Linked DNA regions of Homo sapiens. The protein of the gene in region 1 purifies or fractionates together with the protein of each later gene. This does not show direct contact. Each region holds a gene or a part of one and is shown in the gene's direction. Other genes may lie near its edges. The genes, in order: MFSD8, ITM2C, NT5C3A, RABL3, TPM3, ORC4 and MSMO1.

Evidence for each region.
Region 2: the proteins of MFSD8 (region 1) and ITM2C purify together in Homo sapiens (affinity purification with mass spectrometry; one large-scale study listed by BioGRID and IntAct). This does not show direct contact.
Region 3: the proteins of MFSD8 (region 1) and NT5C3A purify together in Homo sapiens (affinity purification with mass spectrometry; one large-scale study listed by BioGRID and IntAct). This does not show direct contact.
Region 4: the proteins of MFSD8 (region 1) and RABL3 purify together in Homo sapiens (affinity purification with mass spectrometry; one large-scale study listed by BioGRID and IntAct). This does not show direct contact.
Region 5: the proteins of MFSD8 (region 1) and TPM3 purify together in Homo sapiens (affinity purification with mass spectrometry; one large-scale study listed by BioGRID and IntAct). This does not show direct contact.
Region 6: the proteins of MFSD8 (region 1) and ORC4 purify together in Homo sapiens (affinity purification with mass spectrometry; one large-scale study listed by BioGRID and IntAct). This does not show direct contact.
Region 7: the proteins of MFSD8 (region 1) and MSMO1 purify together in Homo sapiens (affinity purification with mass spectrometry; one large-scale study listed by BioGRID and IntAct). This does not show direct contact.

The regions. Positions count from the first base shown.
Region 1 is NC_000004.12:127,944,674-127,948,173, reverse strand, and holds part of MFSD8 (major facilitator superfamily domain-containing protein 8), read left to right. Parts: intron 1-3,500. UniProt on the Homo sapiens protein: Outward-rectifying chloride channel involved in endolysosomal chloride homeostasis, membrane fusion and function. Conducts chloride currents up to hundreds of picoamperes.
Region 2 is NC_000002.12:230,877,345-230,879,748, forward strand, and holds the end of ITM2C (integral membrane protein 2C), read left to right. Parts: intron 1-55; coding exon 56-206; intron 207-663; coding exon 664-755; 3' UTR 756-1,904; downstream 1,905-2,404. UniProt on the Homo sapiens protein: Negative regulator of amyloid-beta peptide production. May inhibit the processing of APP by blocking its access to alpha- and beta-secretase.
Region 3 is NC_000007.14:33,028,277-33,031,776, reverse strand, and holds part of NT5C3A (cytosolic 5'-nucleotidase 3A), read left to right. Parts: intron 1-2,062; exon of another isoform or gene 2,063-2,148; intron 2,149-3,500. UniProt on the Homo sapiens protein: Nucleotidase which shows specific activity towards cytidine monophosphate (CMP) and 7-methylguanosine monophosphate (m(7)GMP). CMP seems to be the preferred substrate.
Region 4 is NC_000003.12:120,704,517-120,708,016, reverse strand, and holds part of RABL3 (rab-like protein 3), read left to right. Parts: intron 1-1,902; coding exon 1,903-2,017; intron 2,018-3,500. UniProt on the Homo sapiens protein: Required for KRAS signaling regulation and modulation of cell proliferation. Regulator of KRAS prenylation, and probably prenylation of other small GTPases. Required for lymphocyte development and function. Not required for myeloid cell development.
Region 5 is NC_000001.11:154,185,601-154,189,100, reverse strand, and holds part of TPM3 (tropomyosin alpha-3 chain), read left to right. Parts: intron 1-1,658; exon of another isoform or gene 1,659-1,843; intron 1,844-3,500. UniProt on the Homo sapiens protein: Binds to actin filaments in muscle and non-muscle cells. Plays a central role, in association with the troponin complex, in the calcium dependent regulation of vertebrate striated muscle contraction.
Region 6 is NC_000002.12:147,947,738-147,951,237, reverse strand, and holds part of ORC4 (origin recognition complex subunit 4), read left to right. Parts: intron 1-3,013; coding exon 3,014-3,187; intron 3,188-3,500. UniProt on the Homo sapiens protein: Component of the origin recognition complex (ORC) that binds origins of replication. DNA-binding is ATP-dependent. The specific DNA sequences that define origins of replication have not been identified yet.
Region 7 is NC_000004.12:165,330,669-165,334,168, forward strand, and holds part of MSMO1 (methylsterol monooxygenase 1), read left to right. Parts: intron 1-2,671; 5' UTR 2,672-2,702; coding exon 2,703-2,957; intron 2,958-3,500. UniProt on the Homo sapiens protein: Catalyzes the three-step monooxygenation required for the demethylation of 4,4-dimethyl and 4alpha-methylsterols, which can be subsequently metabolized to cholesterol.

The DNA.
Region 1 (3,500 bases):
CTGCCCTGTTCATACCCAACTAGCTACCTAATGTAACACAGTCACTTCTTAAAGGTCCTACCTTTCAATATTTTAATAATATTAATTTAAATATTAATTTCCAAAAAATGAAATTTGGGGGACACATTCAAACCATGGCACCACCTCTTAGCTTCTGTGACATTTCTCTATCCTGGCTTTCCTCTTAACTCTAATGACTTATTCTTAAATTCTTTTGTGTATTCTTCCTTATCAGTTTATCCCTTGTTGGTTTTTCTATGAGGTTGGAGAGAGAGTGTGTGTGTGTGTGTGTGTGTGTGTGTGTGTGTGTTCACACGTGCATATGTGTGTTTTATCCTAGATTCTGAACTTTGTCCCATATTAGATGTATAGCCAACAATTTATTAGATAAATCCATGGTACTTGGATGAACCCAGGCTCCTCAGGTCTTTACACATTTGTCTCCCTTTTTACTGGAATGCTTTTCCTCTCTCCATCTTTCTTTTGCTCTCCCCTTTCTCCTTCCTCACTGTCTTTTATTCACTCTTCAAGGTTTTGCTCCAGTGTCACCTCCTCTGGAAAGCCTTCTCTCTCTCTCTGTTTTTTTTTTTTTTTTTGCAATGGAGTCTTGCTCTGTTGCCCTGGCTGGCATGCAGTGGCGTGATCTTGGTGCGCTGCAATCTCTGCCTTAAGGGTTCAAGCGATTCTCCTGCCTCAGTCTCCCAAGTAGCTGGGACTACAGACGCCAGCTACCACACCCGGCTAATTTTTGTATTTTTAGTAGAGACGGGGTTTCACCATACCGGCCAGGCTGATCTCTACCTGACCTCAGGTGGTCCACCCACCTCGGCCTCCCAAAGTGCTGGGATTTCCACCTCCTGGGTTCAAGCGATTCACATGCCTCAGCCTTCCAAGTAGCTGGGATTACAGGCACCCGCCACCATTCCTGGCTAATTTTTATAATTTTAGTAGAAGTGGGTTTTCGGCATGTTGGCTAGGCTGATCTCGAACGCCTGACCTCAGGTGATCCTGCCTCAGCCTCCCCAGTTGCTGGGGTTACAGATGTGAGCCACTGCACCTGGCCTGGAAAGGCTTCTCTCACTGTCCCTCACAACAATTTGGGTCAGAAGCTTTTCCTGTATACTCCCGTTTCCCTTTATCATTAGCCCTTAATATGGAGTGTCCTAACACTGTATTTACAGAGAGTTTACTTAACTCCCCTACTAGATTGTCTAGATTGTTAGGATTGTTTTTTTTTTTAATTTTTGTGGTTTTTTTTGTAAATGGAGTCTCGCTCTGTCACCCAGGCTCGAGGTCAGTGATGCAATCTTGGCTCACTGCAGCCTCCACCTCCAAGGTTCAAGTGATTCTCCTGCCTCAGCCTCCCAAGTAGCTGGGATTACAGTCGTGCACCACCACGCCCAGCTAATTTTTGTATTTTTAGTAGAGACAGGGTTTCACTGTGTTGACCAGGCTGGTCTCAAACTCCTGACCTTGGGTGACCCACCACCTCAGCCTCTCAAAGTGCTGGCATTACAAGTGTGAGCCACCATGCCCAGCCCAGTTTTTACGAATTTCTACTTTTTGAAAATGCTCTCCTAAAATATATTTTTAAAGGAATATAAGAAGAAAAGAAATACAAATTTTACTTTTTACTGGTTTAGTGCCATATTTTCATTGCTATTTTGAAAATAATATTACATGAAATTATTACCCATTACACTAAAAATTCTTTCCATGCTGGTAGTCATTGGAATTGGCACAATTCTGGAGCAACGTCTTCTCTACTAAAAAGATATTTTCATGTATCAAAATTCTTAATTTCTTGGCATTTAGTCTTTTTAGTCAAAATTCTCAAAAGAAGGATATTAGTAGTGATTAGGTCTACTCAGCATACTATGTTGAGTTTTGAAAAGTACTCTCTTTTCTCCAGATATTTTGAAAACTCTTTAAAGAGTCTTGCTATCAGGCCCAGTGCTGTGACTCACGTGCCTGTAATCCCAGCGCTTTGGGAGGCCAAGTTGGGAGGATTGCTTGAGCCCAAGAGTTCAAGACCAGCCTGGGTAACGATATAAGACCTCGTCTCTACAAAAAAATTTAAAAAGTTATCTGGGTATGGTGGTGCTACTCCCTGTAGTCCCAGCTGCTTGGGAGCCTGAGTTGGGAGGATTTCTTGAGCAAAGGAGTTTGAGGTTACAGTGAGCCAAGATTATGCCACTGTATTCTGGCCTGGGTGACAGAGCCAGACCCTGTCTCAGAAAAAAAAAAAAAAAAAAGTTTTGCTTTCAAACCACTACACATTTAACATTAAAATTGAGTTTTCATTGCTTTTTTGAAAATTAAAATTTTATGTAACATGAAATTATTATTTTCTATTTTAGTAGAGATGACAAATGAAGCTAAAGGTAATACAGGAAGAAAATGAAAACCAGAGTACCTAAAATGAAAGATATTTTAACGGCTAGAACTTTAAATATTATGTATCATTATACTTTTGCATATTATTTCTTATTTTTTTCATAAAGAAAAACGCACCTAAATATTTTCACTTTAAATATCTTTAGGGAATTACCAGGCACGGTGGCTCACACCAACAATCCCAGCACTTTGGGAGGCCAAGGCAGGCAGCTCACCTGAGGTCAGGAGTTAAGAGATCAGCCTGGCCAACATGGTGAAACCGCGTCGCTACTAAAAAAAATATAAAAATTAGCTGTGCCCACGTGGTGGCACATGCCTGTAATCTCAGCTACTTGGGAGGCTGAGGCAGGAGAATCGCTTGAACCTGGGAGGTAGAGGTTGTAGTGACCTGAGATCGCACCATTGCACCCCAGCCTGGGCAACAAGATCAAAACTCCGTCTCAAAAGTAAATAAATAAATAAAATAAAATAAATAAATAAATATCTTTAGGGAACAAAAGGTCATAGTTTTCCTTATTAAATTGTTCTACCACTTATCTATATTTGTTTAAATTTATTTCCTAAAATTTAATAAAAGCCATTAAATAGGAAGATTAGAGATAGAATCTTCCTATGTTGCCCAGACTGGAGTGCAGTGGCTTTTCACAGGTACAGTCATAGTGTGTTACAGCCTCCAACTCCTGGGCTCAAGGGATCCTTCTACTCTAGACTGCTGAGTAGCTGAGATTACAGGCATGGGCCACTTCGCCTGGCTTAGCCTACCACATATGAAAAAAAGTAATCTGGCTGAGTGCGGTGGCTCATGCCACTAATCCCAATATTTTGGGAGGCCAAGGTGGGAGAATTCCTCCCTCCCGCGGCAGGAGGATTGCTTTGAGAGTTGGAGGCGGGAAGTTCAAGACCAGCCTGGGCAACATAGGGAGACCCTGTCTCTACAAAAATAAAAAAATTAGGTGGGCATGGTGGTGCATACCTGTAGTCCTGGCTACTCAAGAGGCTGAGGCAGGAGGATCACTTGGGCCTCAAAGGTCGAGGCTGCACTGAGCCGTGATCGGACCACTGCGCTCCAGCCTGGATGTCAGAGTGAGACCCTGTCTCAAAAA
Region 2 (2,404 bases), on another chromosome or scaffold:
GGTTGGACGAAAGCCTGAGGGGCCGACTCACTGTGGCGGCCACCTTGTTTTGCAGAGGGGGACCTACCTGCCGCAGACGTACATCATCCAGGAGGAGATGGTGGTCACGGAGCATGTCAGTGACAAGGAGGCCCTGGGGTCCTTCATCTACCACCTGTGCAACGGGAAAGACACCTACCGGCTCCGGCGCCGGGCAACGCGGAGGCGTGAGTGGCTGGCTTCACCCACAGTAGCCCCTGTCCCGTGCCCCAGACCACAGTTATCTTCACGCCTAGCCCAGCTGTCAGAGAGCTCAGATAGCAGCAGCAATAACAGCTAGCATTAGCAGAGCACTTCCGTGTGCCGGGCAATGCTGTGTGCTCTTTATGACCTCTTAAGAGTGTAAGTCATTCTCATCCTCATTATTATTTTTGCTGCCCATTTTAAAGATGAGGAAACAGGTGCAGAGAGGTTAACACCCTGGAGGTCACACAGCAGGGAGGTGGCAGACATGGGCAGGCTGACTCCAGCTTTCGAGCTCTCCCCATTTCTCACTGTGCTCTTTGGGTGAATCTGGGTGAATGGTGTCACTTCCTGGCCCTCCTGTGGCTCAGGCTGAGGCTGGTGGTCTTTGTGACTCAGCCAGGATGCAGGGCTCACTGGGGTTTTTCTTTTTCCTCCCAGGGATCAACAAGCGTGGGGCCAAGAACTGCAATGCCATCCGCCACTTCGAGAACACCTTCGTGGTGGAGACGCTCATCTGCGGGGTGGTGTGAGGCCCTCCTCCCCCAGAACCCCCTGCCGTGTTCCTCTTTTCTTCTTTCCGGCTGCTCTCTGGCCCTCCTCCTTCCCCCTGCTTAGCTTGTACTTTGGACGCGTTTCTATAGAGGTGACATGTCTCTCCATTCCTCTCCAACCCTGCCCACCTCCCTGTACCAGAGCTGTGATCTCTCGGTGGGGGGCCCATCTCTGCTGACCTGGGTGTGGCGGAGGGAGAGGCGATGCTGCAAAGTGTTTTCTGTGTCCCACTGTCTTGAAGCTGGGCCTGCCAAAGCCTGGGCCCACAGCTGCACCGGCAGCCCAAGGGGAAGGACCGGTTGGGGGAGCCGGGCATGTGAGGCCCTGGGCAAGGGGATGGGGCTGTGGGGGCGGGGCGGCATGGGCTTCAGAAGTATCTGCACAATTAGAAAAGTCCTCAGAAGCTTTTTCTTGGAGGGTACACTTTCTTCACTGTCCCTATTCCTAGACCTGGGGCTTGAGCTGAGGATGGGACGATGTGCCCAGGGAGGGACCCACCAGAGCACAAGAGAAGGTGGCTACCTGGGGGTGTCCCAGGGACTCTGTCAGTGCCTTCAGCCCACCAGCAGGAGCTTGGAGTTTGGGGAGTGGGGATGAGTCCGTCAAGCACAACTGTTCTCTGAGTGGAACCAAAGAAGCAAGGAGCTAGGACCCCCAGTCCTGCCCCCCAGGAGCACAAGCAGGGTCCCCTCAGTCAAGGCAGTGGGATGGGCGGCTGAGGAACGGGGCAGGCAAGGTCACTGCTCAGTCACGTCCACGGGGGACGAGCCGTGGGTTCTGCTGAGTAGGTGGAGCTCATTGCTTTCTCCAAGCTTGGAACTGTTTTGAAAGATAACACAGAGGGAAAGGGAGAGCCACCTGGTACTTGTCCACCCTGCCTCCTCTGTTCTGAAATTCCATCCCCCTCAGCTTAGGGGAATGCACCTTTTTCCCTTTCCTTCTCACTTTTGCATGTTTTTACTGATCATTCGATATGCTAACCGTTCTCAGCCCTGAGCCTTGGAGAGGAGGGCTGTAACGCCTTCAGTCAGTCTCTGGGGATGAAACTCTTAAATGCTTTGTATATTTTCTCAATTAGATCTCTTTTCAGAAGTGTCTATAGAACAATAAAAATCTTTTACTTCTGACCTTGACTTGAGTGTGGCTGGAGGGGAGATGGGTGTAGGAGGGGTGCTCCGGGCAGGGTCGAGGAGCTGGACCTCGGGAGCAGCAGGCAGGGAGAAGCCTGCAGACCTTGACATCTGGCCCCTAAAGAGCTGGGCATCCTGGATTCAGCCAAGGAGTGTAGGATATCCCCTTCGTAGCACCCTGGATCTGAGCCAGGTAGAGTTCACACTTTCCGGGTGAGGAGGGGAACAGGGCTGGGAGAGCTTACCGACTCGCCCAAGGTCGTGCTGCTTTAAGTGCCTGTAAACCACCCTGTAATGTTCTACCTGGCAGATGACATCATTATTGCATGTCCTTAAGCACAAGGGCGGTGTCCTATTCTCCACCACGTCTGGACAATTTGTAACCATTCCTGGAGGATCTGAAGTGAGGTTTGGTGTGATAATCACAGGGTCACATTCTCCAGAGAATTCTGGAAGCGGCAGGAGAGCTGGCCAGAGCCATGTCTAGGTGGACCCCA
Region 3 (3,500 bases), on another chromosome or scaffold:
AAAAGTACAAGTAATTTTTTTAGTCTTGGTTAAAATATGAATTGTTTTCTCTGTACATTGTGGATTGTATAACCCTTAGTTTATTTTGTTTTTTATTTTTAGTTTAAGAATAATAATTCATTATTTTAAATATAATGTATTTATGTGTGTTTTTTAATACAAAATCTTTTTATTTATTTATTTTTTTTTTGAGACAGGGTCTCACTGTGTCACCCAGGCTGGAGTGCAGTGGCATGATGTCAGCTCACTGCAACCTCTGCCTCCCAGGCTCAGGCAATCCTCCCACCTTAGCCTCCGAGTATCTGGGACTACAGATGTGCACCACCATGCCCGGCTAATTTTTGTATTGTTTGTAGAGACAGGGTTTTGCCACGTTGCCCAGCCTGGTCTCGAGCTGCTGAGCCCAAGTGATCCTCCTGCCTCGGCCTCCTAAAGTGCTGGGATTACAGGCATGAGCCACCATGCCCGGCCGTGTTTTCTTTTTTAATCAAAATTTAATATAATTTGAAATCTAGTTCAAACAGAATTAAACTTTGAAGTTGTCATAATCTCATCCTGGAAATTAGGATTATCCCTAGTCTGGAATATTATCATTGGATTGATGATACCAAGCCACACCCAGAAATTTGGTAACTGTACTATGGAGCTTCTCTCTTTTTTTTTTTTTTTGTTTTTTTTTGAGGCAGAGTCTCGCTGTCGCCCAGGCTGGAGTGCAGTGGCGCGATCTCGGCTCACTGCAGGCTCCGCCCCCCGGGGTTCATGCCATTCTCCTGCCTCAGCCTCCAGAGTAGCTGGGCCTACAGGCGCCCGCCACCTCGCCTGGCTAATTTTTTGTATTTTTAGTAGAGACAGGGTTTCACCGTGTTAGCCAGGATGGTCTCGATCTCCTGACCTCGTGATCCGCCCGCCTCAGCCTCCCAAAGTGCTGGGATTACAGGCCTGAGCCACCACGCCTGGCCAGAGCTTCACATTTTTATCTTATCCCAGTGTATCCACAAGATCATATCAAATCTAATATTAAACAATTGAGTTGTGGATAAAATGGCATAACTTTGAAATCCATTTCATCTCTATAAATATATTAAGTATTGGTCAAAATAAGTGAATTTTAGGTCTTTCTTAATCATTTTTGGTGTTGATTCAGATTGGCATCAATCAACCAACATACCCTGATTCTTTTCAGGAAGGCATTGCTCCCTCCCCAACATTTTACGCTGCGGCTTTACCATAAAATGAATTTGTTCTCTTTTTATCACAAATGATGGAAATTTTTAGCTTCTTATTTATTTTTCATAAAATTTTATCATAATCAAATTGAAAATTTTTCAGACAATTCAAAATACCTTGCCCTTCAAATTTGAAGTATCATTATTTATATGCCACCAAACCAAGTCTGTGTTTTTATAAGAGGGATATAGACAGAAGGACTTTGTGGAGGTAACAAAAGTATGTGATCTCATGCAACAGTTGGGGCATGTTCAACAACAACCACCACAACAAAAAGTATGTGATGTATTTCATCATACTTCTACAGTGTGCTTATATTATGATACTCTTTGACATATTCCATACAGGAGTCTTTGATTCTCTTTCTTAGGCTATATTGTAAAGTATTTGAGTAAAATACCCCATATCTCAAGTTCTTGTGAAGTATTTCTCATATAGATCAGTGACATTAATTGTGTATTGCAGGAGAGGAGTATAGTATACTATATAACCCAAGACAGATAGAATGGTCATTTTTATATTTCTTATACCTATTTCATCATTATTTTACTCCCGTGCCATTTGTGTATTCACTACTTATGAATACACAATGAAAATGAATGGTTGTATGTTGCACAGGAGCCACCAATGCCTTTAGCTACTGGTTCTCTTTCATCCATTGTGATTTAAAGTAAACCAGTATTGGCTGGGCATGGTGGCTTACACCTGTAATCCCAGCACTTTGGGAGGCTGAAGCGGGGAGATCACTTGAGCCCAGGAGTTTGAGACCAGCCTGGGAAACACAGCAAGACCTTATCTCTATAAAAATAAAATAAACCAATCTTACATTTGTTAGTGTAGCAGAAACCAGCCTTCTTCGAAGTGGTCTTGGTGTGATTCTCCTATCCGTTATCAAAAACTTGAAGCTGTGATTTGCCTGAGGTAAGACATCTTGGGTACACTGAAATCAAATATTTAATTTTTTTGGTGAAAAAATAGTCTATGATATATATCCTGTGTTGCTTTCACCATAATGGATTGGTTATTGAATCAAACATATGCTGATTGCTGTGCATCTGCCAGTTAAGGCTGAGGTAAGAACAGAAATTAGTTGTCAAGAGATAAACTTACTAGCTGAGGTATTTGTAAGGGAGTTACAGAAGTGATATTCCAAAACAGCAGTGGTCCCTAAAACTCAGCAGAAAAGCAGAGTAAATACTACTCATCATCATATCCCTAGCATTTAGCAAGAGTGTGTGGCACAAAGTAGACACATGGTAAATATTGGTTAGGCGAGTGAATGGGTTAATGTATGAAAAAAAAAAATAGGAACCAGTGCCTATCTGCCTTTCCATCTATTGAAAAATCACTATAAAATACATAGATAACCTTTAAGCCATTGAAACTCATCCAGTTGAGTTAAAAGGATTACTACATCAAGGTTAGTTGCATTGCAGGTCATCCTACTTAAATATGGCTTTTTAAAATTAAATATATTGTAGGTGGTAGATCTTTCATCCATGGAGAAAATTTTAATGTTAGCATTTGTCTTTTCTCTACACTTTCTTTTTTTTTTCAAGCTCTGCCTCCCGGGTTTACGCCATTCTCCTGCCTCAGCCTCCCAACTAGCTGGGACTACAGGCACCCGCCACCACGCCCAGCTAATTTTTTATGTTTTCAGTAGAGACAGTATTTCACCATGTTAGCCAGGATGGTCTCGATCTCCTGACCTCGTGATCTGCCCACCTCGACCTCCTGAAGTGCTGGGATTACAGGCGTGAGCCACTGTGCCCGGCCTCTTTCCTCTACACTTTCGTTATCATCTTCCAGTCTTTGGAAGACAGTCCATCCTTTTTCTGATTTTTCTACTCTTGCCCATTATGTAGGAACAACACGGCATCTGATAGATTTACGTGGTGAGATTCTCTTGTAGCAAAGATAGAAGGTCCAGGGAATTTTTGTAACCATGTCCATGACACACATGAACTATGTTAATATTACTAATAACATACCCAGAATAAAAACATATAAATAAAGATTATCCAGTACAAACCAGTATAGAACTTGGATTTGAGGTACTATTATTGCCTATGCTGTATAACTGACTATAAAATGAGGCATAATTTTCTCCTTCTAGTTGTATTGTACATGTGCTATGAGAGCTTGTACTGATTTTTCCTCTAATCAGTTTCATTCTATTTGTGATAAAATAGCTAGTAACAAGAAATAATACTTAAGATTAAATTGTTGAGCAACCCTAAAGTCTTCATAACTCTGTAGTAGCAGCCTACACC
Region 4 (3,500 bases), on another chromosome or scaffold:
CCCTCTCTAATAGCCTAGGCTAGTAATCCTTCAGAAGGAAATAATGAAGTGTCTTTACTTCTCTCCCTTAAGATTAAGATATATTATCATATCACCCTGACTCCTTTCATCTCAGCCCCACCTTGATTCTTCTAGCACATGTTCTACAAAGCAATAACTCTCAGCCCAAATGAAAGAGAAAGAATAGGGGAAAAGGGTACTCAAATGCCCTTAAAAGCTCAAAAGTCTTACCTAAAGATCCTCAGTAAAGTCTTCCCTGTCCATCTAATAGCCAACTTAGGCCTTTGTAATTCTTTTACTCCCCCGTCCAAAATTCTCACCCATAGTTTTGCCATATTTATAGCCTGGGGAAAAGGAAAGGGAGAAAATATATGCCAGTTTTTTGCCCTAAAATGGAGATTTTATTCTGCTTACCACCAGTCTTTACTGTCAGATTACCTGAGTGCAAATTCTGACTTACCATGTGCCCAAGGACAAGTTACTCTACTTCTCTGAACTTTAGTTTTCTCTTGTGTATAAAGATAATAATAATTCTTCATAGGACTGTTCTGAAAATTAAATTAGATAACACATGTAAAGCACAATATTTAGTACATTAGTACTGAATAAATATTAGCTGTAGTCTTTAATGGTGGTTCTTTATTCCTTTTTTTAAATCTGTGCCACTGATGCTGATTAAAACCCCTCATTGAGGAAGGAAGAGTGGGTACAATTGGATATTAGGGCAAGTGTCAGATCTCTATTAGTTTCAGACACCAGAAGAGATGCAGGTTTATCTAAGCTGGCTGGAACAAGTCAGCTATAGCTTGTACAAGCCCTTTAGTTACACAGATGGCTATAAAAACTGTAGAAGCCAGCTAATTCTACCTCTTCTGCTTTTCTTTTTCAAATTGACACATACCACCTCTTGAAGATGGAGGAATCATTGGTTTCATGTCCTATTCACAATCTGGGTAATATAGAAAAGGGTTGGGAGTTTGAAACCTGTAGTGTTTTGACCATAAGGTGATATCCTAAATTCTAGTGGGCATCAAAGTTTTTCCTCTTTTGTCTATATCTTGCTGTAATAATTAATTCCCTGATTTTCCTTTCTATCTAGGATTTTAATTGATTCTCTTCAGTTGTATTTTAGTGTATTTCTGGGCCTCGTTACATTTTGTTATTTTTCTCAATCTATCAAAATCCGTGCATGTACTTTCTACTATCCATACTTCTTTACTATTTAATGTCTCACCCACTCTCTTATAGTGGCATATTTCTTTTGCTCTAATAACTAAATCTCTTACAGGTAGGAAGCTTACATAACTAATCATTATTCAAAGAACTAGAAAATTAGACATTTGAATAGATTAGTCTCAGATGATCTACAGGACACTATTTTGTCAGCTAAAGAATAGCAATTGTATCAAATCAGTACTATTTTAGTAGATTTTCATTACCTAATATTACTTTTAGTGAGTATAAGTAATATATGTATGTACTGGTATCTATGGCAGTACTGTGTACAGTGAAGAAACAACATAACTTTTTGAATGAATAATTTCATATGTACTTGAAGTAGTTTTGATTCTCTTGATTAATAAAGTGGTTCTACAGGTAGGAACAGGCATGGAGTAGGCACTCAGGAAGTGTTGAATGAAGTAAAGATCTGCTAAAAGTTTAATGGGATTTCGTCAGCCCTTGTAAAATAAAGAGTTATAAAACTGACAGAGAAAGGTTTATGGCTATTTATAAATATTTGTAGAGAAAATTTTAAAATAATTGTCTCTGAGTTGTTAGTCATACTAGAATGCTAGATTCATTAAGCAACCTAATGCTTCTGTTTACTAAGCTTCATTTGGCCAATTGTGAAATGAAGAGGAATTGTTAAGGGATTAACATTGTTTTCTCTGATTATTTTAGGTATTATTTTCGTACACGACTTAACAAATAAGAAGTCCTCCCAAAACTTGCGTCGTTGGTCATTGGAAGCTCTCAACAGGGATTTGGTGCCAACTGGAGTCTTGGTGACAAATGGGTGAGCCAATTTCACAATTGGTTTGAAAGATTGTAGCAATCACAGGAATGTACTTCCCTGAATAACACTTTGTAAAATGTTTGATTTGCAAAGATTTTTCTTTCAGTGTATAGATTATCTTTTCCTTTTAACAGTATCTTTCACAAAGCAATAGTTTTCATTTTGATGAAGTCTGATTACTCTTCTTTTCTTCTATGGATTGTGCTTTTGATATCATGTCTCAGAACTCTTTGCCTAATCCTAGATGATGCAGGTTTTCTCTTATGTTTTCCTCTACAGATTTTATGGTTTTACATTTTTATAGTAAAACATTTATATAAAACATTTTAAGTTTTATAGGTTTGCATTTAGATTTATGATCTAAGTTAGTTTTGTACGAGATGGGAGGTTTTGGTTGAGGTTAACGTTTGCATATGAATGTCTAACTATTCCAGCACCATTTATTGAAAAGATATCCTTTCTCCATTGAATTGCTTTTGCTCCTTTGCCAAAAATCAGTTGACCATATTAGTATGAGTCAACTTCTGGACTCTAGTTCTGTTCCATTGATCTATGTGTCTGTCCCTTCACCAGTACTACGCTGTCTTAATTATAGTCTTAAAATTGAGCAGTATGATTCCTTCTACTTTATTCTTTTTCATAATTGTTTAGCTATTATAGTTTATTTGTTTTTCCACATGAATTTTTAGAATCAGCTTGTCTATATTGACAAAAATTTTGGTTGGATTTTTATTAGAATTGCATTGAACCTATTGATCACATTGGAGAGAATTAACATCTTTATTCTGTTGCATCTTCCAGTTCATGAACACAATATATCTCTAAATTTATTTAGATCTTCTTTTATTTCTCTTACCAGCATTGTGTAGTTTTCAGCATACAAATCCTGTGCATGTTTTATTAGATTTATACCAAAATATTTAATATTTTTTAAGCTATTGTAAATTGTTTTTTTGTTTTGTTTTGTTTTGTTTTGAGACTGAGCCTTGCTCTGTTGCCAGGCTGGAGTGCAGTAGCACGATCTCAGTTCACTGCAACCTCTGTCTCCCAGGTTCAAGCAATTATTGTGCCTCGGCCTCCCAAGTAGCTGGGATACCTGGCTGATTTTTGTATTTTTGGCAGAGACAGGGTTTCACCATCTTGGCAAGGCTGATCTCGAATTCCTGACCTCAGGTGATCCACCTGCCTTGGCCTCCCAAAGTGCTGGGTTACAGGCATGAGCCACCATACCTGGCCATAAATGGTATATTTAAACTTCAGTTTCAAATTTTCCATTGCTAGTATAAAAAAAAATAGAATTGATTCTGAGTGCTGACCTGTATCTTGTGACCAGAGTTTTTTAGTACAATCCTTAGGATGCTCTACATAGACAGGTTTATTTCTTCCTTTTCAATCTGTGTGCTTGTTGTCTTATTTCTTGCCTTTTCGCACTGGCAGCAACTTCCAAAAGGGTACTAACTAGGAGTGATAAGAGTGAATATCT
Region 5 (3,500 bases), on another chromosome or scaffold:
GAATGCAGTGGCAAGATCTCGACTCACTGCAACCTCCACCTCCCGGGTTCAAGTGATTCTCCTGCCTCAGTCTCCTGAGTAGCTGGGATTACAGGCAGCTGCCACCATGCCCGGGTAATTTTTTATATTTTTAGTAGAGACAGTGTTTCACCATGTTGGCCAGGCTGGTCTCCAACTCCTGACCTCAAGTGATCCACCCACCTTGGCCTCTCAAAATGCTGGGATTACAGATGTGAGCCACCATGCCTGGCCTCTGCCATTAGGTTTCTGATCTGTTTTGTTTTCCACCACTTTCAGTGGCCAAGGAAAGTGGTAAGAATTGAATATATTATGCCAGAGGTTAGAAACACAAACTAAATATACATCATTTAAACTCATTCTTCCAAAAGTTAAGGCCAGCACAGGCTTTTTTTTTTTTTTTTTTTTGAGACGGAGTCTTGCTGTGTCACCCAGGCTGGAGTGCAGTGGTACGATCTTGGCTCACTGCAAGCTCCGCCTCTTGGGTTCACGCCATTCTCCTGCCTCAGCCTCCTGAGTAGCTGGGACTACAGGTGCCCGCCACCGCGCCCGGCTAATTTTTTGTATTTTTAGTAGAGATGGGGTTTCACCGTGTTAGCCAGGATGGTCTCGATCTCCTCACCTTGTGATCCGCCCGCCACGGCCTCCCAAAGTGCTGGGATTACAGGTGTGAGCCACCGCGCCCGGCCAGGCCGCCACAAACTATTAATTCTCCCTTCTTGTGCCCAGTGTGGTGGCTCAGACCTGTAATTCCAGCACTTTGCTTTGAGAGGCCAGGGCAGGAGAATCGCCTGAGGCCAGGAGTTCAAGACCAGCCTGGGGAACATAGTGAGGCCCTATCTTTACAAAAAATTTAAAAATTAGCCAGGTGTGGTGGCATGTGCCGGTAGTCCCGCGTACTCCAGAGGCTGAGATGGGAGGATCGCTTGAAGCCAGGAGTTCATGCTTGCAGTGAGGTATGATAATGCTACTGCACTCCAGCCTAGGTGACAGAGCAAGACCCTGTCTCTATTTAAAATGATAAAAATTCTCCCTTCTCAGAAAACTCAAAAAAACAAAACAAAACAAACAAACAAACAACCCTACCAAATCTACAGGTTACCCCTGGGCTTTGGGCAAGTGGATGGCTGGCTGGAGTTGTATAGCCTAGGTTCCTGGTATATTTGGATGGATCTCTCTGTTTCTAACATATGGGCATGAAGATAGAAGTTTTCACAAACTAGCACAATGTCAGGTTAATAACAGTTTTGTGAGAAATTGGGTAACATCAATCTGGGTCTGCTCTTAGGCTGAAACGGCTAGTATGTGGGCTTGAGGAGGTGTTTCCAGGAGCAAGAAAAAGAACAAGTCTAACCTGAGATCATGAGAAGGAGAATAACATAGAGGCTGTACGCAATACATCAAAATCATTAGGAATATAAAAGGATTTCCTGGGGATGAATTCTGTCTATCTTAATCTGTTTTACACATGTACAGACATACACATACACACACATAGCACCCCTCACCTAGATGTGGTCTACTCAGTATATTCATTTGAAAGAAGTTTCTTCATATTTACATAGGAATCCACCAAAACCCATTTAAATATGTAAAGTGAGGGTTAAAAATACTCATTCAACCCCTCTCCCCTTTGTTAGCTTTCCCAAGTCAGAAAGTACCCTCAGAGATATGCATAAGAACAAGAAACAGGAGAGGGAAGGTTGTGGCCAGGAGCAAGCAAGAAGAAAGGTTTCTTTCCTCAAAGCTAGAGTCAGCAAACTACCACCTGTGGGTTAAATCTTGCAACAGCCTGGTTTTGTAAATAAAGTTTTATCGGAACACAGTCATGCTCATTCTTGTACATACTGTCTACTGGCTTTCTTATCTCTCTGGCCACAAGACCCTAAAAGTTGGATGACCCCTGCCTCAAAGGGTCAAAGAAGGACAGTGTTTATAGGAATTGGGAGAGGTGCTGAATAAGGACCAACAAGGTTAAAAGCAGAAAGCAAAGGTAAGAGTCATCAGCAGCATAATATATGCATCTTTGGAGGGAGTATACTCTGTCCAATACAAAGGAAGTTAACAGCTCAGCTTCTGTCCTTGAGGTTAATAAATAAGTAAACAGAGCATATTATCTTGAAGTAGATATAAGCAGTAGAGAAGGAGGAGGGAGTCAATAACTACGTGTTTACACAAGCAGTTCTGGTTATCTGAGAAGCCTTTCTGAAAAGTGCAGGATTTACTAGGACTGCTTGAATAAAGAAAGGGCAAGGGTATGGCAAGGCGAGTCCAAACTTTTTTTTCCTCCCTAAATTTGTCTAACTTTGTTTTCTAAGTTGTGGTAAAATACGCATACATAAAACTTACCATTTTAACCATTTTTAAATGTCTAATTCAGTAGTAGCATATTTACATTGTTGTGCAACCACATCTAAGATCATTTTAATCCAAGATGAAATCAGATGCTGTTTAGGGAGAAACAAAGGGAAAGAGGAGTGCATTGTTAGGACATAGAGTCATAACACCATTTTTTAGGGACAGGTGGCAGGAAGGATGGGGAGAGAAGGGACAACGATGGACATATACACCTGTTGATATATTGTATTGCTGGTTACTAGGAACACAATAGCACTGGGCCCCTTGCTGTCTATCCATTGTGCTTCTAAAGGCTATCATGAGTCAGTCCATCTGTTTGACTGCATTAAGAGGAGATTATCTGCTCAAATCTACCAGTCTCAGAAATGCAGTGGTGCTCTCAATACCCTCTTGGTTTGGCTAGGATGAGGTCTTCTGCTGCTTTACCAGGGCACAGGGAGGTACAATAGTGCCCCCTGCTGAGCAGCACCCAGATGACAAAGTGTCACTTCTGCCACATCTTGATCAGACTTCTACAAAGCAAGTTAGAAAAATTCTTAGGCCATCAGGGTAGAGTCTATTAAGAGTCAGAACCCTGATCTTCCTTCCTAATTTCTGGGGGAAAAATCAGTGTGCAGGTTACTCTATTGAGAAAATTATTATCTATCCAAGTTGTTTCTTCTGAATAGTCTCATTGCTCGGTATTTCCAAAAGGTGATAGGAAAACAGAGGCTCTGCAGGGAGCATTCTTAGAACTAGACATTGAGGGCAGCAACTGTCTTGCCTACTATTCCTTTCAGGGATTAGGACTCTTCATTGTAAGTCCTGTTCCACATCCTAATTTTCTAGGAGAAAAGAGAGCTGTCCCAGAAGAAAAATTTATCACGATTACCTACTGGGAAGGTGGGAGGAATACAAAGAAATAAGAGGGAAGATAACGTTCTCAAGTCTCTTTACTATTGTGCTTCCAGAAATCCTGCATGGCAGTGCCTGTAGGGAAAGTTTCTTTTTTTGTTGTTTTTCTTTTTTTTTTTTTCAGACTGTGTCTCACTCTGTCACCCAGGCTGGAGTGCAGTGGCGCGATCTCGGCTCACTGCAACTTCTGCCTTCTGGGTTCAAGCAATTCTCCTGCCTCAGCCTCCCGA
Region 6 (3,500 bases), on another chromosome or scaffold:
CACATTTACATGTTCACATCTCCTTTCCTACAACCCTTTTTCTTTTTCAGAAAAGTGAAACTTTTTTCTAATTCATATTTCAACAGTCCTCCTTCCAGTGCTGTTTCTCTATAGAGTGACTGTCATTTGCCCCTCCTTTCCTGTGCTCTAGAGCTTATGATACATGGCTTTAGTATAAACATCCCTCATACATCACTGGCTGGTGCTCCACATATCTTTATTCCTCCTTGCCAAAAGCAGCAGGCGATGACAAGGATCAAAGAAGCATCCTCCTTCTTGCCAAAAAAAAAAAAATCTTCCTTTGGGTGGAAGTGGCTGTGGTGAGTGTTGTTGACCCAATAACGGACCAAATAAAATGCCAGTAACTTCTTAGCAGTGTTATCAGATGTTCTTTTTTATTGTATATATATAATTCTCCAACTGTGTAGTTCTTTCAAGTGTAATTTTTTTTCTTTTTCTTTTTTTTTTTTTTTGAGATGGAGTCTTGCTCTGTCGCCCAGGCTGGAGTACAATGGCATAATCTCGGCTCACTGCAACCTCCACCTTCGGGGTTCAAGCAATTCTCCTGCCTTAGCCTCCCGAGTAGCTGGGATTACAGCCACACACCGCCATGCCTGGCTAATTTTTGTATGTTTAGTAGAGATGGGGTTTCACCATGTTGCCCAGGCTGCTCTCGAACTCCTGACCTCGTGATCTACCCCCCTTGGCCTCCCAAAGTGCTGGGATTACAGGCGTGAGCCACTGCGCCTGGCCTCAAGTATAATTTTATCTGTGTATCCACGTTTATAGGGAGAGAACAAAAGTATAGAGGGAGTAGTGACTTTGCCAGCAAGCATCTTCTTCCCCATTGGGAGTAATTCCATTTTTGTTTTTTGGTTTTGTTTTGTTTTTACTAGTTCCTGTATGCCCACATTGCCAACTTCTGTCATTACTGCCTACTACAAAGACAGTATTTACTTCCATCTCTTTTCATTCCCAAATTTAGGGTCTGAATTGTTGCTTGTATAGATTATTACTTCCACTGTCTACCTATATGGGTGACCTAGAACTCTTTCTTAATAGAAAATAAATGTACAATATCTGAATCTCTGAATATAACCTTTCTTGTCTTTTAGTTCTCATGCTGGCACTATACTTTTCTTTGACCTCATAAAAACATTCAAAATTTTTTATTCACCCTCCCACCTCCTACCTCAGGCTATTAGTCTTTCCTGTCCACCTTCCCAAACTAACCATGATCCCATTTTGATCACTTGAATTCTTTCCTCTATATCATGATTTCTTCACGTAGGTATTATGAGAGTCATCTGGCTAGATGTGGAGATGTATATTTCTGGGCTTAAACTACTCCCCTTTTAAAAATCTTTATAACATTTCAACAATATACATAGGAAAGAATAAATAATGAGCCCTGAATTCCCTTCTCCACTCATTGCCAAGATTCAATTACTACAGACTAATTTTATTTATCCTCAACATCTCCTTTCATTCCTGTATTATTTTGAGGCAAAAACTAGGTATTATATCATTTTATCAGTAAGTATTTTAGAATGTATTTTTAGGAGATAAGAGCTCTTTAAAAATATATTTCCCTAATATAATTGTTATATTAGCTGTAATTCCTTAAAGTCATCAAATATCATGTCACTGTTTTTAAAACAGCTTTATTGAGATGTAATTTATACCATACAACTCACTCATTTAAATTATACAATTAACAGGGTTTTTGTTTATTCATAGAGTTGTGCATTTATCACCACAGTTTAAGAGCCACGTACCTTTTAGTGATCACCCCAAATCCCCTGTTCCCTCCCCAGCCCTATGCAACCACTAATCTGCTAATCCACTTTCTGACTGTTTAGTAATTTTTGAATCATACAACGTATAGTTTTGTGTGACTGGCTTCTTTAACATGTTTTCAGAGTTGATCTGTGTTACAGCATATATCAGCCCTTTATTCCTTTTTATTACCAAATAATATTCTGTTGTGTAGATATACCACACTTTGTTTATCCATTCATCAGTTGATGGACATTTGGGTTGTTTATATTTCTTAAGCTATTAAAAATAATACTGCTGCAAACATTCACATACACTTTTTTTGTGGTTATCTGGTTTCATTTGTCTTGGTTGTATACCTTGGAGTGTAACTTAAGTAATAAATATATATTATACTATACTGTATATATATAGATGTATATATACATATATAATATAAATTATATATATTATATATAATATGCTGTGTACTATAATATATTTTGAAAAATTGCTCAAGTTCATTATTAAAAAGAGATTTAGGAATGACAGTTCCTGCAATATATGTGACTTAGGAAGACAGCTTACCTATTGTGCTTTTGATGTCTTGGATAGTTTGAATGCCTATCAGTTTTGTGGAAGTATTTTCTTCATTTAAGAACACTTCGTATGTCCTTACAAGCAGTACATATTAGTTATCCTTTGGTTTTTAGTGTTCTTTGACAGTAAATTTGATTCCTGATTTCTTTTTAAGGAAAAATAGCACAAATACAAATAGAGTCTAAAAGCATTACTATAAAAAAAAAAAAGCCGGAAGATAACTTACGAATGCCATGTTGCATTTCTGCCACTTTCCTCTCCTAAAGTTGGTTCCTGCTGCCTATCATGCTATTAATTTTTTAATCTCAGTTCTTCATAGAATGTACAGAATTCCTTATTGACACTCTTGGTGTTATTGTGACATATAGCTATTCAATATTGTCAGTTTTTTTAAACAGTCATGTTGGGTCTTGGAATGTTACAGATTAGCTGAGAGTAACATGGTGGGAAAAAGGCATGACATCACCAAGCCAGCAAATGCCTGGAGGTGGATTATTTAGTTTGCATAAAATGTTTTAAATGTTTAATTATGTATTGTAGACTAAACATTACTAATTATAGGTGATAGTTTACTTATACCTCTAACATTGGTACAGTGTTTTTGTTTTTTTAAAAACATTCATCTTCCTTATAGAGATTTCTGTTTGTTTTTAAGGATATTTTGGAACTCTTAGAAAAAAGAGTGAAGTCAAGATTTTCTCACCGGCAGATACACTTAATGAATTCATTTGGTTTTCCACAGTATGTTAAAATATTTAAAGAACAGTTATCTCTACCTGCAGAGTTTCCAGACAAGGTTTTTGCTGAGAAGTGGAATGAAAATGTTCAGGTATCTTAAAAGGCAATAAAGCTAAATGTTCCTTGCTATATGATTTAAAGCAATTAAAACACAAATTTTAGAAATTAGTAAATTAACACAAAGTTTCTAATATTGCTGAAGGATAATGCTGCAGTAATACAAATTATATACTTTTTAAAAATTTTCTTCTTAGACAGTTGAAATGTCATTTCTCCTAAATTCTATCTCAAAAGAACATCACAGTTAAGCTTTAGGATTTATGTTATTAGTTTGAAGTAAACTTTAATGAGGCTTTAGTTTTATCTGTATGTGGTTTATATTTTAGATAATTTTATTTTATATA
Region 7 (3,500 bases), about 37 Mb from region 1:
TAGCTCAGTGAGTTGTGTGGGTGAGTTAAGCAACCTTTTTTATTCTTTTTTTTTGAGACGGAGTTTTGCTGTTGGTGCCCAGGCTAGAGTGCAGTCACAGCTTACTGAAACCTCCACCTCCTCATTTCAAGCGATTCACCTGAACTCCTGACCTTAGGTGATCTGCCCGCATCAGCCTCCCCAAGGTGCTGGGATTACAGGCGTGAGCCACCATGCCCAGCTGAGTTAAGCAATCTTTATGTAGAGCTCTCCTTTGAGAAAGAAGTTGGTTGGTTCAAAGAAAGATAAATGGGACAGTGGCTTGGAAGAGGTAATGGAGGCTAGGAAGGTGTTTATCAACAAAGGAAGATGTAGGCTGGGCGCAGTGGCTCACACCTATAATCCCCACACTTTGGGAGGCTGAGATGGGAGGATTACTTGAGCCTAGGAGTTTAAGACCAGTCTGGGCAACATAGGGTGACCCCTGTCTCCACAAAAAATTAAAAAAATTAGCCAGGCGTGGTGGCATGTGCCTGTGGTCCCAGCTACGAGGGGCTGAGGTGGGAGGATTGCTTGAGCCTGGGAGGTCGAGGCTGCAATGAGCCATAATTGTGCCACTGCACTCCAGCTTGGGTGACAGAGTGAGACCCTGTCTCAAAAAAAAAGAAAAAAAAAAAGAAAAGACGTGAATGTGTTTTTAGACCTGAAGGAATGGATTCCATGAAGGGAGAAGGATGAAAGATGGGAAAGGATAAGTGATGGACAAGTTCTTGAGGTAAGATAAGAACACAGGAAGACTAGTCAGTCTTAGAGGAAAGAATGAATGAGCAAAGAAATTTTAAGGCCTGTAATGACACAGGATGGAACACTATAGTCACTGTGGTGTAAGTCATTTGAGATGAGTAGGACAGAAGGAGGACGGCCTGAAGTGAATTCAGATGCCTGGAGGAGTTGGCTAGGTTCTCAATATTCCTTCTGTAGAATGGGATAAAAGGTCAGTTTGAGAAGTGTTGGGGAAGGGGACTTTTAAAGCACTATTTAGAATGCTTCTGAGGCTTTAAAATACTCATTTTTAAAATGGTCCAAAAAATTCATAAATTAGAAGCAGCAGTGGTGAACATTTTTAGGAAAGTGACCCTTGAGAAGTTTATTTTTTGGTTAGTGACCTATTGAGCTTATTTATTAGGTAAGTAGAACATGCTCATTTAAAAAGTTTAAATTGTGCAAAAGACATATGTCAGATTTTTTTTTCTGTCTTCCATAACACTATTTCCTACCCCGCCGCGCTCTGTCTTCCGTAACACTCTCCCCTACCCCGTCGCCACTCTGTCTTCCATAACACTGTCCCCTACTCCACCACACTGTCTCCTACCCCGCCGAGCTGTCTTCCATAACACTCTCCCCTACCCCGCCACGCTGTCTTCATTAACACTATCTCCTGCCCTGCCACACAACTCTGTTTTCCTAGAAGTCACCAGTGTGAATTTTTCCCTTTATCCATATGTACATTTTTTGTTTCTGTGTGTCTGTGTATATACATATGCATAAAAGTGCATAGATAAAATACATATCCTTTTCAAAAAATCTTAAGTGGGGCTCTTGCTATGCATACTGTTCTGTAACTTGTTACTTGGATTAACACTGTATCTTAGACATCTTTCTATGTAGAGCGTATAGATCTTCCCTGTTCTTTTAAATGGCTGTATAATTGTCTATGGAAGGACTTAATTTATTTAACCCATACCTTGTTGATGGCTTATTTGTGTTTTGCTTTTATTTTTTCCTCTTTGTTTTTGCTGCTACAAGCAATGCTTCCTTCCATCTTAGCGGATCTGTCTTTGTACCCTTGAATGAGAAAGTTGCTGGATCAAAGGATGTATTCATTTTGAATTAGGTGTTGCTAATTTTTCCTCCAATGATACACTGATGTATCCCCCCTGCCCACAGTGTGTGGTCATGCCTGTTCTCTCACCCTCTTACCAGTACTGGACATTAATAAGCTTTTAAAGATTTGCTACTCAGGCTAAAAGTGTCTCTTTGTTTTAGGGTGCATTTCCTCATTTAATGAAGTGAAGATTCTTCCTTGTTTAGTGACCATTTGCCTTTATTTTTCTGTGAACTGCTTGTGAATGGCATTTGTCGTTCTTCTGTTGTCTTTTTAGTCTTTTTTCTAAAGCACACTTTGTAGCCCTTTGTTGTAAAATGTTGGAAATATTTTTCCCAGTTTGTCATTTAATCTTTGACTTTGTCTTTCTATTCCCCAGTAGGAGGTACTTAATTTTTATATACTCATATTTGGCAGGCTTTTTCTTTATAGGTTCTTTTGGCTTTAAGTGATACTTTTAAACCCAGCTATTGCTCATTTAAATTAGAACCTTTTCCATGAGAACCACACTGACGATTTCTTTAAATATAGCTTGAAAAAATTTTTCCCCTATTGTTCTTTTAGCTATTGTTCTTGAAAATAATGTGTTTTTTAAAGGAATATCTACAAATAGAAATGGTGATGATATCCAGCAAATGTTTTAAAATGGTGTAAAACCATTTGTACTCCTTTAGTAATTTTTTGGTAAAAAATTTATACTCCTTTAGTAATTATCATTTTTAAAATGATCAGAGGATGCATTTTTTAACTGTTTTATTTTTTGAAAGCTCATTGTTTAACTTATTATATATGTATTCATTTCTACAGAATTATAAGGCTGTCTGCAGAGATTTGAAAAATGGCAACAAATGAAAGTGTCAGCATCTTTAGTTCAGCATCCTTGGCTGTGGAATATGTAGATTCACTTTTACCTGAGAATCCTCTGCAAGAACCATTTAAAAATGCTTGGAACTATATGTTGAATAATTATACAAAGTTCCAGATTGCAACATGGGGATCCCTTATAGTTCATGAAGCCCTTTATTTCTTATTCTGTTTACCTGGATTTTTATTTCAATTTATACCTTATATGAAAAAATACAAAATTCAAAAGGTGAGTATAAGGGACTAGAAATAGAATATTATCATTAATGTTGCTGAATATTTTAAAAGTACATAGGGCTTTGTTTTGTGAGGCTAAAGCAGTGATATCCAATAGAAATATGAAGCCACGTATGTAATTTTAAATTTTCTAGTAGAATACATAGAAAAGGTAAAAAGAAATAAGGAAATTAATTTCATAATGTGTATCATTTAGCTCAATAAATGTAAACTATCGCTGGGTGCAGGGTCCATGCCTGTAATTCCAGCACTTTGGGAGGCCAAGGCAGGAGGATTGCTTGAGGCCAGGAGTTCAAGACCATCCTGGGAAACATAGCAAGACCCTGTCTCTACAAAAAAGATACAAAAATACCCAGGCATGGTGATGTAAGTCCTAGCTACTTATGAGGCTGAAGCAGAAAGATTGCAGCACTATACTCTAGCATAGGCGACAGAGTGAGACCTTGTCTCAAAAAAAATAAGAAATAAATGTAAATTATTATTTCAATCAGTAATCAAATTCTAAAAAATACTTAATGAGATATTTAATAAGTCT